Homo sapiens: one gene and its partners. The protein of the gene in region 1 interacts with the protein of each later gene in a biochemical or structural test. Each region holds a gene or a part of one and is shown on either strand. Other genes may lie near its edges.

Region 1 (3,500 bases):
CATGGAACATATTCAAGGCCATGCTATTTGGGAAGTAGATGGATCCTGTTCTTAAAAAAAACATGTGGGGCTACTTCCGGTAATGGAGTTTGGCGGCAGCAGCAGCTCTGCACTGGTCTTAAAAGATCAGTCCCAGGATGATTAGGGTCAAGTTCAATAAAACAAAACAACATGCAGCTTAGCTGAGTCCAATATAATGATTCTCAAGTTGACAGATTAAAATGCAGTGAGAAGCTTGGGGAAAAGAACTGCAAGAGATTGGCCCTAGTGAAATTCCTTCCCCAGGGCTGGTGGTGACAGCATGTCCAGTCGTCAGTATGTGTTCTGGTAACCGGAAATGAAGCTGATGCAAACCAATAGCCTCTCCATGCAGAGAGAGAAGGGAAAGGCAACCCACTTCTGCTCAGCTGGTACACAGAAGGTAGGGGAATTTTAAAAGTCTACTCATAAAGTTGGTTAAGCTACAAATATAAACTGGAGCAATTGACTTCTGATGGAGAAAACATTTGATTACGCTGCTGTGTAAAAATAAATAAACTGCACTTATCGTTTTCTTCTATTCAGCATAGATGAAAAGAAATTACCTGTGACTGAGATAATGCTCCAGACCCTTTGCTCTCTTGCGAAAGAAAGAAACGGACTGACATGAGAAGCTCCTGAATGCAGCAGCGGAACTCCTCTTCGTTTTGCCCACCAGTGGCAAGGGAAAACAGCCTTCGAGATTGAACTATATACTTAAAAATGTATTCTTGTGCCTTAAAAATACAATTTTTAAAAGTTAGCTTCAAAGGAGACAAAGAGTATTTATTTAGCAATGACACGGCATAAAAACCATGGTATGGCATTAAACTTTTACATTATTCATGTAGACACCAAGGCCTTGTGAGGCTTTTTTGAACAGTATTTACTTTAAGGGGGAACAGCCACTTTTCTCTGATGCCTAATGAGAGAAAAAAAATTTAAAAACACTTTAAATTTAAAAGAAATTTAAAAGAAATAGAATTTTAATAGAAAATTTAAAAACACTTTAGCCGGGCACGGTGGCTCACGCCTGTAATCCCAGCACTTTGGGAGGCCGAGGCGGGTGGATCACCTGAAGTCAGGAGCTCGAGACCAGCCTGACCAACATGGAGAAACCACATCTCTACCAAAAATACAAAACTGGCCAGGCATGGTGGCCCATGCCTGTAATCCCAGCTACTTGGGAGGCTGAGGCAGGAGAATTGCTTGAACCTGGCAGGCGGAGGTTGCAGTGAGCAGAGAATGCACCATTGCCCTCCAGCCTGGCCAACAAGAGCAAAATTCCGTCTAAAAAAAAAATTAAAAAAAAAAAAATTTTATCATTCTGGAGTATGATGAACACTAAGTGTTTTTGACCCTCAGATGTTTTTTAAATTTAGTCAACAAAAAGATAACTGTTTTTTAAAAAATAATTTTGTTTTGACAGGTAGTACTCTTGCCACTTAGCATTTTACCTTCAATCAGCCCAAATTACAAATGAATAATTCACAAAATGCTATTTTATAAAATGTATACATTGTCTACTTAAAGCTACTGACACCAAATAGGATGGTCCTCAACAACAGGAATCAGAAGACTACCAGGGCTGTTACTGGACAATTCCTTTAAGAATTTGTACTCTTTTTCAACATGTTTGCAAGTAAGGGATTAGTATCTCCACAGACAACTGAGCATATGGTGCCCAGCGATGTGGGCAGCGTTAAGCCACAAGACCCGGTAAAGCCTCAGGTTTCCTCATTATAATCCCCGCTAAGCCACCCTATTTGCTCTTAAAATTTAACATAAATGGTTCTCCGATGGTCTCTGTCAGGTTGGTGGAAGCAAGAGCCAGGAACTTCTAAGCTTAACTGCCCCATATAGACTTCTCTCATAAACCCTCCCTCTCTCCTGCTCATCTTAGACTTCACTTCAAGTACTCTCCAGCCCAGAGGAACAAGGATTCAATCCTGAACAGTTTCCAGTAGACTACCCTGGCAAAGTCCCCTTCAAATTTCATCAGCTCTCAAGCAGTCACAAACTGATTAAGATCCTTGAATTGGAATGTCAGTAATACATCATCACCCATTACTGTCTGTGTAGAGGAACCAATTAGTTTAAGCATCAGCATGCAACAGCTTTGTTAGACTCTGCTGTTATCAACAGCATGTTATCACCTTCAGCACCTCCTGGATATGCTCTTGCCGCTCTGCTTCTGTGATCCGGTCCACGTACCATTTGAGCACTTTGATGAGATCTCTAAAATACAGGGGAAAATGTGCAGAATGTAAAATTGGTCTAATTCTCAATTAAATGCCAACAAATCCAACTCTTAACTATATCATGAGGAGGTTTCTTTTCCCATCAGTTCTCACATTTTCCTGTCAATCTGCTGTATAATAATTTTACTAAATCTGCAGATCAACACTGCCACCCTTTTCAAAGCTTAAGGGAGAAACAACACTCAATCTGGACATATTCCATAGCCCTGCTGTTTCTGGTAATGCCTCCAAATGGGTGAACACAAATATTGGAGAAAAGGACTGTGCCCAACCAAGTGCCTGGCAGTGTGAGTGCCATGGTCAATACTGTAAAACTGCTCATTGGGATTTCTTTCCCAGTGACCACGTAAACAGCTGGATGCAATATCATTAGGCTGCAGGCAAAACGGGGTGGGAAGGAGGGATGGAGACAATGCCTCCCCACTGCTATGCACACCTTATGGATTTATCAAGCCAATTTTCTGACCCATGAGAAGAACCTGGCTTATGTCAATATGTGCCTTAGGAGAATTTCTAGAAAGGCCAAGGTAATTTTTTTTCCTGTTTTGAAAAAATGTAAAAACAACAGCCCACAACTCTCAAGATGACAGTCTTACACCTTGAACTTTGGTCAGTTCTTGGTTTCTCTTTTTTCTTTTTCTTTTCTTTTTTTTTTTTTTTTTTGAGACAGAGTCTTGCTTTGTCACCCAGGCTGGTGTGCAGTGGCTTGGCTCACCGCAACCTCTGCCGCCCTCCTGGGTTCAAGCAGATTCTTCTGCCTCAGCCTCCCAAGCAGCTGGGATTCAAGTATGCACCACCACGCCCAGCTAATTTTTGTATTTTTAGTAGAGGCCCGGTTTCACCATGTTGGTCAGGCTGGTCTTGAACTCCTGACCTCAAATGATCTGTCCACCTTGGCCTCCCAAAGTGCTGGGATTACAGGCATGAGCCACTGTGCCCAGCCAGTTCTTGGTTTCTAGGAAACAGTTTACCCAGCAATGTTTCTCTGGGTCAGGGGAGAATACTTGGATGTGCCAGTAGGTAGATGTTGGTGGAGTGCTATTTTTTAAGATAACATGCTAGTGAGTTTCTGATCACCCCCAGCCTAAGAGGATTCCACAAGCCTTATTTGTCTTTTTAAGATCCTGCTTTCCTGGCCAACCGGAAGTGTGAGAAATTATACTCTTGTTTTCTAGCTTCCAAAGACAATTTAACTTGGAAGCAGTAACCTCCTCACACTAG
Region 2 (3,500 bases), on another chromosome or scaffold:
TGAAAAAATGGTGGGCATATAAGAGAAACAAACTCTATGAAGTGATCTTATATTTGATCAAGGCATGATGAAGAAATTATATTTCATCACGTTTGAAGTTTAGAATCACTTCCTCCTCATACTCACCCCTCAAATAAACAGTAAAGTCACCCTCATCATCCTTTTTTCTCCAGTGAGCAGTTTCAAGTGTTTCCCATCTCTCACTGGGAAGAGCTTGAGGAAATGGTGACTATGAAAGCTTGTTTTATATGGGCTGCCTTCCAGTTACCAAAACACTTTTTATTTGTGAAAATAAAAATGACTTTATCCCACACTCTTCTTGACTGTGTATGTAAACTCTATTATCTTCTCTGGCAAGGATGCAATCCTTTTTATGGAAATGGAGACAGCTTTCTTCTTATTTAGATAAGAACCATTTTTGTTTCTGAAAGCATCTTTCTTGTATTGTGACAGGCACAGTATACCTTTGAGTTGTTCCACTAACATTAAGCAAATATGAGGGTTATGGTTTGAGAATGTAAGCTTTGAAAAAGGACAAAGAGCTTCATTAACATACTCTTAGTCAAGAGCAACACTTCGTACTAAAAAATGGACCATTTTGTCTATTTTTGTACAGAAAAATAGAGAAAAATAGATTGTGTTCAGGATTGCATGGAAGGCATTTATTCAGGTGCTGGGAGTTGATCTAAACAACAACTAACGTGCCCTTTAAGCCTAAGATTCAAGTCTAAACTCAGAGAAACAAAACTTAGCTATTTGATGATAGCATGGAAAAATTATTATTATTATTATTTGTGAGACGGAGTCTTACTCTGTTGCCCAGGCTGGAGTGCAGTGGTGCGATCTTGGCTCACTGCAACCTCCACCTCTTGGGTTCAAGTGATTCTCCTGCCTCAGCCTCCCCAGTAGCTGGGACCACAGGCGTGTGCCACCACATCTGGCTAATTTTTTGTATTTCTAGTAGAGACAGGGTTTCACCATGTTGACCAGGCTGGTCTCAAACTCCTGACCTCAGGTGATCCACCTGCCTCGGCCTCCCAAAGTGCTGGGACTACAGGCGTGAGCCACCATGCCCGGCCACATTTTAAAAATCTAGATATTAAAATTTTATATCAACTATTCCTATAACCATATAAGAAAATGTCTCCTTAGCTTAAACCTATTCACAGGGGAAAAAAACCCCCAGAAATAAACATACTAATATTTAATATCTGTGGCTGGGCTTGGATGGTATAGTTTTTTCCCCAATAAGTAAGTGAGAAAGTGTATTTTATTCCAATGTCAAAGGTCACATAACTTACAATAAAAGTTTGACTTGGGTTGAGAAACAAAAACTCAAATTTCATATTGTTCCATGGCCTTTTGCTATTCATCTGCAATGACATCCTGAAGCATGATAATATTAATGGCATTTGTTTCTCTAACTGACACGTATTTGCTGTCCAGAAGATTGCTGTATTTGCAGAGTTGTCATTTTGATAAAAAAGAAAAAGACATCTTTTTTGCACAGCTTTGTATTACTTAGAAAAACAAAAAACCCTATAACCATAGCTTAGCTTTTCTCTCGTCTCAGTCCACAAGTGAAACTCACTGTTTGACTTTTATCAGCACGTTTTGTTCTGGTTTACGCTAAAGGATTTTTGGATAGCAGGAGATACACTGCAATTTAGTTATTTTTGTGTAGGGAATGTCTGTCCTGAAGTACCAAGTTACATAAACTGGCCGTGCAGAAATCTGGCCTAAGAGTCTCATAAGGAGTAGAAATCCTTTGGTTCATTAGTAGAACTGAATTGTTCTTATCTTGGAGCATTTCAAACACCGGCCTCTTGGAGAGGATGTCAGTAAGAATTAGTCATGACGCAAAGTCATGGAATGTTTCAAGGCTCCATCTGACTGGCTGCTATAGCCCTTAACCTAATCTCAACCTTTAAAAAAAAAACAATTTAATCTCCTTTTTCTCATTTGTAGTATTGTAAATATTCATATTTTCTAACCCCCAAATGTAGGACACAAGGGCTAATACATGCTTGACAAGAGGTCAGAGTATTTAAAATTAGGATTATGCCTTAAAATCCCATCCTTAGAATAACCATAGTCATAAATTAATACTCATAGACTTGCAATAGAAGCCTCTGCTAGAGCTACAACTTGGAAAATTACCCTTAAACTCCAATTCTGGAGAGATGTTAGCAAAACGTGGGCTCCCATCCTGGTCTAAACTCACTTTGTGCTTAGTAAATACTTGCTGAATTACTTACATGCTGGGGTGACGGATGCAACCATGATGAAGGATCACTGGGGATTTGGTACTTCGGTCAGATCTATCTAGTTGGCCTCATTTCTTGCATCTCATATTAACGAAATTGGGTTTAAAAATTAGGAGAAATTCTTGCATGGAAAAATAAGTTGCAAAGGATGCAGTGCAATATTGGATGTGTGCTGTGTAGGGAAAAGGAAATGCAGAGTCCCTTCTGGTTGGTCCAGGTAATGATAAGAGGCTGAGTGGTCAATAAGTGCATGTCTATTGACTTTAATTCTTAAAAGCACCATATAGTCTCTTTTTCTCATGTGTCACCTCCAGGTGATAAATTGATGACGGTGGGAGGAAGCAGGTCAGCCTGGGCATCTCTGCAAAAGGCTAGATACAAGTGAGAACTCTACCTCAAGAACTTTCCTTTTTTCTTCCACTATTTTCTTCTAGCAAAGAAAATGTTGACTAGAGGTGTCATTATTCACCAGCCCACCTAGTATGTCAGGGGGAGTCGCCATCAGCATTCAGATCCCTTCTCATTATATTTATTATCTGTGCCATCCATTTTCTTTTGCTCACTTACCCCAAAGAGCAAAAGTCTTACCTAGCCTAAGTATCCCACTCAACTTTCTTTTCTTTTCTTTTTTTTTTTTTTTGAGACAGGGTCTTGCTCTGTCACCCAAGCTGGAGTGCAGTGGTGCAATCACAGCTCACTGCAGCCTCGACATCCTGGGCTCAAGCACTCCTCCCACCTCAGCCTTCTGTGTAGCTGGGACTTACAGGTGTGTACCAACATGCCCTGGTTAATTTTTAAAATTTATAGAAATGGGGTCTCACCATGTTGCCCAGGCTGGTCTCAAACTCCAGGGCTCAAGCAATCTTTTTGCCTCTGCCTCCCAAAGGATTATAGGTGTGAGTCAATGCGCCTGGCCCCACTCAACTTTCAAGATTACTTTCCATGCAACAGCTGAGAGTGATGGCAGAACACCATTTTGAGAACTGGCTCCCAGGACAGGTCCTGGCAATGTTAGAAAATGCACAGCTCATTTTTAGGCCCTCCAGTTCCTTTCATCCATTTGTCAGCTATTTATTGAGCTGTGGGCTATTTATTGAGCTGGAGGGACTCAGAGGGAAGACAACAGCCTCAAGGTTCCTGCCTTCATGAACATATTCTCTGTCCTGCTCACTCCTTTTGGGGCTTATTTTCTCCTACTTTTGCTTTTAGTGGATTTTAGATTCAGACTCTACC
Region 3 (3,500 bases), on another chromosome or scaffold:
CTCCCAGAGAGGGGTGGGCAAAGTGTCATGGAGACATGACAGAGGGAGAAACTGGCGGTCTGGGGGAGGTGGGAAGGAGCAAAAGTCCCTGCGGGACAGCCCTTCTTGTAAGTGGAAGTGTGGAAGCCTCAGTAAGAGCCCATTTTGAGAAACGGGGTCAGGGAGCCTGCTCCTGGACTCAACACCTAGGCATGTGGAGGAGGAGGGGCTGCACAGGTGGGCTGGGACCTGGTTGTGGGCACCTTGTGTTGGGGTAAGGAGTCTGGATTGTGTTTTACAAAGCAGAGCCACTGAAAGATGCTCTGCAGGATACAGTTATTTATCTTAGCAAATACCTAAGAAACATATTGTAGCAAAGTATACAGGGGGGATAAAAGCATTTAGACTGAGCTTCTCCAGCTAGGAAAATCTATCTATCTATCTATCTATCTATCTATCTATCTATCTATCTATCTATCTAGTTTTCAAGACAGAGTCCTGTTCTGTCACTCAGGCTGGAGTGCAGTGGCGTAATCTTGGCTCACTGCAACCTCCACCTCCTGGGTTCAAGCGATTCTCCTGCCTCAGCCTCCCAAGTAGCTGGGACTATAGGCACATGCCACCATGCCTGGCTAATTTTTGTATTTTCATTAGAGACGGGGTTTCACTATGTTAGCCAGGCTGGTCTTGAACTACTGATCTCAAGTGATCCACCTTCCTTAGCCTGCTGAAGTGCTGGGATTATAGGCGTGAGCCACCGTGCCCAGCTTCCAGCTGGGAAAATCTACCAGGATGATGGACTTTTTTCTTTTTAACCAGCCACGAGGTCTTCCATACCAAAAAACAGGGCAGAGAATGGCCCTAATAACATAAGCTGATTTTTTTTCTCTTAACAAGATTTTCTGGGTACAAACTAATATAAAACTACCAAAGCTTAAAAATTTATTAGGGAAATCTTATAAACTTTGTCCACAGCCTGTGAAGAGACAGAGCTGGTTGGAACATATAGTTCCTGCTCCTTTCTTTGCTAACTCCTCATGTACCCTGGGGGTTTTTACCAGAGAAGACACTTCTCCAGGAAGCCTTCCTAGACTTTCCAAATCCTGCTTTAGATACTCTTCCACCATGTTCTCAGACAGCCCTGAACTTCCCTCACCGCTGCTGACACTTAGCATAGACTAATCCAGTTCTCCTACTAGATACAAGCCTGTCTCTGCACCCTTCTTTGTCAAATGAATGAATGAATGAATGTGGGATGGTCCCCATTTTGCACAGGGAAGCTGAAGCTTGGAGAGAGGTTCAGGACTTATGCAAAGGTTGTTCCATTTGTGGTGGGACCTTAATCATGCTCTTTCCACACCGCTTCACTGCCCCGCTTGCAGTTCCAGGGGAAATCCCCAAGAGTTATCCCCTAGAGTTCCTCTTGAGGACAAGAGGATGTTGCACATGACCCTACTTTGAGCTCTGGCCTGCCCGTGGAGGACACAGCAGGTACTCAGGCACCACACGGGTGGAACAGAGCTCAAAGTAGGGTCATATGCAACATCCACTGAGCCAAAAGGAGTACCCAGGTCTAGGTGGGTCGGTGCGGGGGAGGATAATGGACAAATGATTGTTCAACGATACAGAATGCAACCAGGGCTGCTCCCTGACAGACGGGCTGGCAGGAAATAAACCACAGAGGCAGCAGAGCTCAGAGGTGAGATGGGTGTGGGCTGTAGCCACTGACAAGCTCTGTGACCTTGGGCAAGTGATTCAGTCCCCCTGAGCTGCAGTCTGTTGACTCACAAAGCCCTTCTCTCAGGCCTGCCTGGTGTAAGTGCTCAGAAAGTGCCAGCCACCGTAATTACTGGATTTCTACTCACTGATGTCTGCACCATCATGGCGCGCTGGTCTCGCATTTTTCGGACAATATCCAGTGGGTAAATGGGCAGGTTCCTCTCAGTTAGGCACATGGCTGTTTCCATAGTGACCAACACACCGGTTCGACCTATTCCAGCACTGGAGAGGGGAGAGAAGACAGACTTGGGATTTGTCTGAGTAGCCTTTCTGCATGGCCCAGCGAGCAGTTCCCCGCTGACTCCAAAGGGGCTTTCCTCCCTTGGCCTTCGAGAAGACAAAACGCACACTCACGGCGTGCTCTCAAACAGGCTGAGACAGCCTGTCCTCACACATCTGAGACTGGGGGCTAGCAGGCAGTGGAAAGAGGGCCACTGTGAAGTGCCAAACCTATTCCCTTTCTCACTCACACCTATGACGAAGGTCAGCTGACAGAAGGACAGGAGAAAGGGTGTGTGAGGGGATTTTCTTCTTCAGTTCTGTGCTACATTCACAAAGTTAGGATTTCATAAAATTCCAAAAAACTTTTGAAATGGTGAAGAACCACAGTCAACAGAGGTTTGTAAGGGCACACGACTTTGTGGGATGTAGGGTGGGTCTGGCGCCTGCCAATTGTCTCCAGGCCTTTTCCGACAGGGAAAGGATTCCAAACCTAACAAAACAGCAAGCGCCATACCTGCAGTGAACTAGGACGGGCTCGCTGTCCACTCTCAGAGACCTCACATAGTTTACAAATTCCAGAAAGTCGGAGGAGTCATCGGGCACACCGTGGTCAGGCCATGCGACGTACTGGAGATGTGTCACTGTGTGTTCTTCCCCGGTCTGTGGGAGATGCAGTGGCCTTGGTGAGCCCATCCAGGTGGTGAGCATGAGGACCCAGCCCCAACCCAGACACAGGGTGGCCCTGTCTCCTGATGCTTTCTCCCTCTGCGCACAGCCCTGCTGTGGCCCCTAGCAATTCCTCCCCTCCTTCCCCAAAGATCCCCATCCCCTCTCAGGCTCAGCTGTGGGCCTGTCCTGCAGGGCTGCCTTCCTTGATCACTTCTGCCCAGTGATCTCCTCTGCCCAGTGATCTCCTCCATTTGCTGCTATGGTACTTGCCATTAGAGGCCACACATGCTGACTGTTTTTTTTTTTTTTTTTCAACTGTGGCAAAATATACTAACATGAGGCTTACCACTGTAACCACATTTAAATGTACAGTTCAGCGGCATTGAGAATACTCGCAATGTTGTAGAGCCATCAGCACTACCTATTTCCAGAACTTTAAAATATCCCGCAAACATAAACCCTGCACCCATTATGCCATATGGCAAAATGTCCATAGATGTCCTTTCTCCTCCTTCCCCAAGCCCTTGGCAACCACCGTTCTACTTTCTGTCTCTATGAATTGGACGACTCTAGGCACTTCACAGAAGTTGAATCCTACAGTATGTGTCTTTCTATGTCTGGCTTATTTCACTTAGGATAATATGCTCAAGGTTCCCCAGTGTTGTAGCAGGGGTCAGAATCTCCTTCCTTTTAAAGGCTGAATCATATTCCATTGTATGGACAGACCACGTGCTGTTTATCCATTCCTCCATCGATGGACACTGGGCTGTTTGCACCTCGTGCCTGTTGTGACTAGGGCCACTGTGAACTCTGGGCCCTGGCTCTTTGATGGGCAGTCTTGCGCACTTACT
Region 4 (3,500 bases), on another chromosome or scaffold:
GACCTTGGATGAGTTTCCGAACCTCTCTCAGTCTCAGGTTTTTCACCTGTGGAATGGGTAATAATAGTACTTACCACTTGTGGTTATTGTGAGGATTAAACAGTGCACATAGAGCACTCACTATGTACCTGGTACCTAGTTTGTGCTCAGTAAAGGAAGCTGCTTTGCAGCTTTATACATATATTTCAGGTGTGCATGTAGGGAGCTACACGGATGTGTTCAGACTAGTGCCTCAGTAAGGCTGCCGTGAGAGAGGAAGGAGGCACAGAGGTATTCAGATGGTAAAGGGTTAGTGTGCAGGAGGTCTGTGCAGAGCACTGTGATGCTAGGCAGGGATGCCTTTTGAGGATAGATGATCCTACACAGCACCCACAGGCTCCCTGACCCTTCTCTTGGAAGAGCGTTGATGGAATCCAGATGCCAGTTAGAGACATATCTTTGTCATGTGGGGATAAATGTCAGGAAAAACACTTAATGCTCATTTTAGGTTGTGATTTTGGTTTCTTTTGGTGAATCATATAACATTTTACTCTGTGTGTGTGTGTGTGTGTGTGTATGTGTGTGTGTGTGTTTGGGGAAGTGTGAAGAAGGAAGGAGAGAAGGACTGAGAAATGTACATTTTTCCAAGCTTAGTTATTGCTGTTGCATTTGAAGGGGTAGACTGAATCACACTTGAAGTCGTTTCCTTCCCCCTTTAGAATATAGGGATTGTTTTTTGGTTTTGTTTTTTGCTGTTTAAAGTGGAAAATGTTTTATTTGAAGAGTTATTTTTAACAAATGGAATTTTTATGTATTTGTATTCAGAGTAATTGTTATTGAAATAAATCTTCTAATGACATACGGCAAGGAATTTACCATGACTAGATTTTGGAGTTTTTGTGGAACATTCTGAGCTTACATTTCAAATGATTTTGTTTGGAAATATCACATGCTTGTGCCATTTAATTTATAAATCCATCTGTTAATCACTAGAAATTTAATCCGTACACTTGGAGAGAATTCATTGCAGTGCTGTTTGAAAAGAAGTTCGTGAACAAGCTGTGAGGGTTTTTTATGAGCTTGTTGGAGCCTTTTGATTTTAAGGAAAGGAAGGAGTTTGAACAGTGAGCTGTCTTCGTTCCCAGAAAGTTTTAGTTCTGACATTTAATTCAAAGATCTAAAGAGATTCAAGGAGGTCAGAGATCAGAATTTATTAGGACTAGAGTGATGGTAGTGCATCGGAACAAAAACAAAATATCTGTTTTCACAGTCAAATTATTAGATATTTACAAGTTTAATAACATTCTGTGCAAATGAGGATGTGGGAAAACACTCTGTCTAATGAACAATAAGTATAAACTCTCTGAAAAGCCATTTGGCAATATCTTTGAAATGTACATATCCTTTTACCCAACAGTTCCATTGTTAGGGATTTGCCCTAGAACTATAATAGCAAAGATAATTTAAAATACAAGTAGGAGAGTATTATCACAGCATTGTTTAATCACAGCAAATGAAAACAGTGTTTATTAGCCTCATGTTGGATACTGTTCAGTCACTTTAAGAAGTAAGGCAGACACGAATTGGTAGCAGAAGATCTTCATGATTTTTAGAGTTAAATGAGAGAGGCAAGGACATAAGAGTCAGACTAGCATAATCACATTTGTATGCAAAAAGGAACAAATGCATATTTAGGAATATGATGTGTTAAAATGTTTTCAAAAGGATGCATAAAGTCAAATAGCTACCATAGGCGGGGGAAGAAGGACAATGGGTTGGAGATGGCAGGGATGCATCATTTTATGTCCTTTGGTGTGGTTTGAAATATTTTACTGTGTGTGTATTTTAGTTTAAAACAGAAATTAGGAGAAACAAATACCTTTTACCCTATTGCCACTCTTGACACAGCAAGAGTCAATTACTGTTTTAAGAGTGCAAGCTTTACTTTCATGCTCAACTTAATGCCTAGCATTCATGCATGTTTTTTTTTTTAACCCAAAGGATAACCACGATGGATCATCCAGTGAAGGAATCTTTGTATCCAAGATAGTTGACAGTGGGCCTGCAGCCAAGGAAGGAGGCCTGCAAATTCATGACAGGATTATTGAGGTATGTGAATACTGGCCAGTGTCTTTGAATAGGCTGAATGCCATCCCATCTTCGTCTAGCTCAAAGCAAGATGTTTGACTGGGGAGGGAGGCCTAAAGTGGTAGATGGTTGAGCGGGAGTCTCACTTTTCCCATTGTGTGGGACCAGATTGAGTGTTGATTGCCTTGGTGTTAAATTTTTGTTAAATGTAGAAAAGCCAGATTATGAGTGGAATGTTCACAATTTGGCTTTTTTCATGTGGACCTCAATCTGTTTCGTATGCATCAGTTACAGTTTCGCGCGAAAACCGTTGAAGAGTTGGATGTTAGAACCAGATGAACGAACCCTGTTGTACAAATTGTGCACCCTGTTCATATTGATTACCAGGGTACAATTGTGTCAGCTTTGGAGTCATTCTAATGTCCTCAGAGCTCACACAGCACACACTTATTTCTACAAATGCATTGTTCTCTCTGTTAGTTTGTCGTCTTTGCCTGTTGTTAGTTGTACAACCTGATTGCCCAGGGATTTGCAGGCAGAGGTTGATATTAGGGTTCACATATCATCACTTACTCCATTTTCAGTTCGTCATTCATCATTTCAAACTTTTATACAGCAGGTTTGTAGACTCATGTAGGGGAAGTGGATCTCTCAGCCCCACCAGACAACACTTTGTAACAGGGTTGCAGTGTTCTAGGATGCTCTGAGTCACTAAAAGGGAGAGAATGATTTGTTGCCTTCTCATATGGGCTCTTGTTGCAAAGTTTGATATAAATGAGTAATTTTTTACTGGTGTTTTGACCATTTTCATAGCTCTTTGGATGGATACACATATGGGCTAAATTGATTGGCTTTCCTATTAGGCAAAAAGTAAATTTGAGAATCCACGATGATATGCCAGACCCCACAAGAAATTCACCCATGGGCCACAGCCGTAATATAGTGCAAATAGAAGAAACCAGAAAAACAGCACCGATACCAGTGGGTGTTTGTTTTCCACATGCATTTTTATCATGTCTGTATTTCCTGAGTATTTTCATGGCCTATTTCAAAATTTAGGACTGAGTGGGAGCTAGGACCACGAGCTAAGCCATAAGTGAAGTTCACATCACTCACTGGAATGTGGCCACAGGCTTCTCCTGGGGAAAGGAGCCTCAGCAAGACAGAGAACAAAGTCTTGCATTTCCAGTCTCATCTGGACACATTCTGCAACGTGCAGTATGCTTCAGGATAATTTGTAATCCTCAGGAAAATACACAGTTAAATCTCACAGGGAAAGCAAACTGAACTAGTTAGGGTGTAAGGCTCCCTCCTCGGAGGGAGTGTGATGTGCTAACTTACATGCTAAAATGATACTTGATTTTGTTTTAAGGACATTATTAATATTGTTGCATCCCCTTTGAATGTTTGAAGGGTTCTTAAACTTGGAGCTT

What was found.
Region 2: the proteins of DOCK4 (region 1) and PDLIM3 interact in a test that uses a peptide from one of them, tested with the Homo sapiens proteins (one large-scale study listed by IntAct).
Region 3: the proteins of DOCK4 (region 1) and PTPN3 interact in a test that uses a peptide from one of them, tested with the Homo sapiens proteins (one large-scale study listed by IntAct).
Region 4: the proteins of DOCK4 (region 1) and PDZRN3 interact in a test that uses a peptide from one of them, tested with the Homo sapiens proteins (one large-scale study listed by IntAct).

Annotation. Positions count from the first base shown.
Region 1 is NC_000007.14:111,867,400-111,870,899, forward strand, and holds part of DOCK4 (dedicator of cytokinesis protein 4), read right to left. Parts: intron 2,257-3,500; coding exon 2,175-2,256; intron 756-2,174; coding exon 585-755; intron 1-584. UniProt on the Homo sapiens protein: Functions as a guanine nucleotide exchange factor (GEF) that promotes the exchange of GDP to GTP, converting inactive GDP-bound small GTPases into their active GTP-bound form. Involved in regulation of adherens junction between cells.
Region 2 is NC_000004.12:185,518,508-185,522,007, forward strand, and holds part of PDLIM3 (PDZ and LIM domain protein 3), read right to left. Parts: intron 1-3,500. UniProt on the Homo sapiens protein: May play a role in the organization of actin filament arrays within muscle cells.
Region 3 is NC_000009.12:109,379,808-109,383,307, forward strand, and holds part of PTPN3 (tyrosine-protein phosphatase non-receptor type 3), read right to left. Parts: intron 2,641-3,500; coding exon 2,495-2,640; intron 1,981-2,494; coding exon 1,845-1,980; intron 1-1,844.
Region 4 is NC_000003.12:73,600,942-73,604,441, reverse strand, and holds part of PDZRN3 (E3 ubiquitin-protein ligase PDZRN3), read left to right. Parts: intron 1-1,980; coding exon 1,981-2,088; intron 2,089-3,500. UniProt on the Homo sapiens protein: E3 ubiquitin-protein ligase. Plays an important role in regulating the surface level of MUSK on myotubes. Mediates the ubiquitination of MUSK, promoting its endocytosis and lysosomal degradation. Might contribute to terminal myogenic differentiation.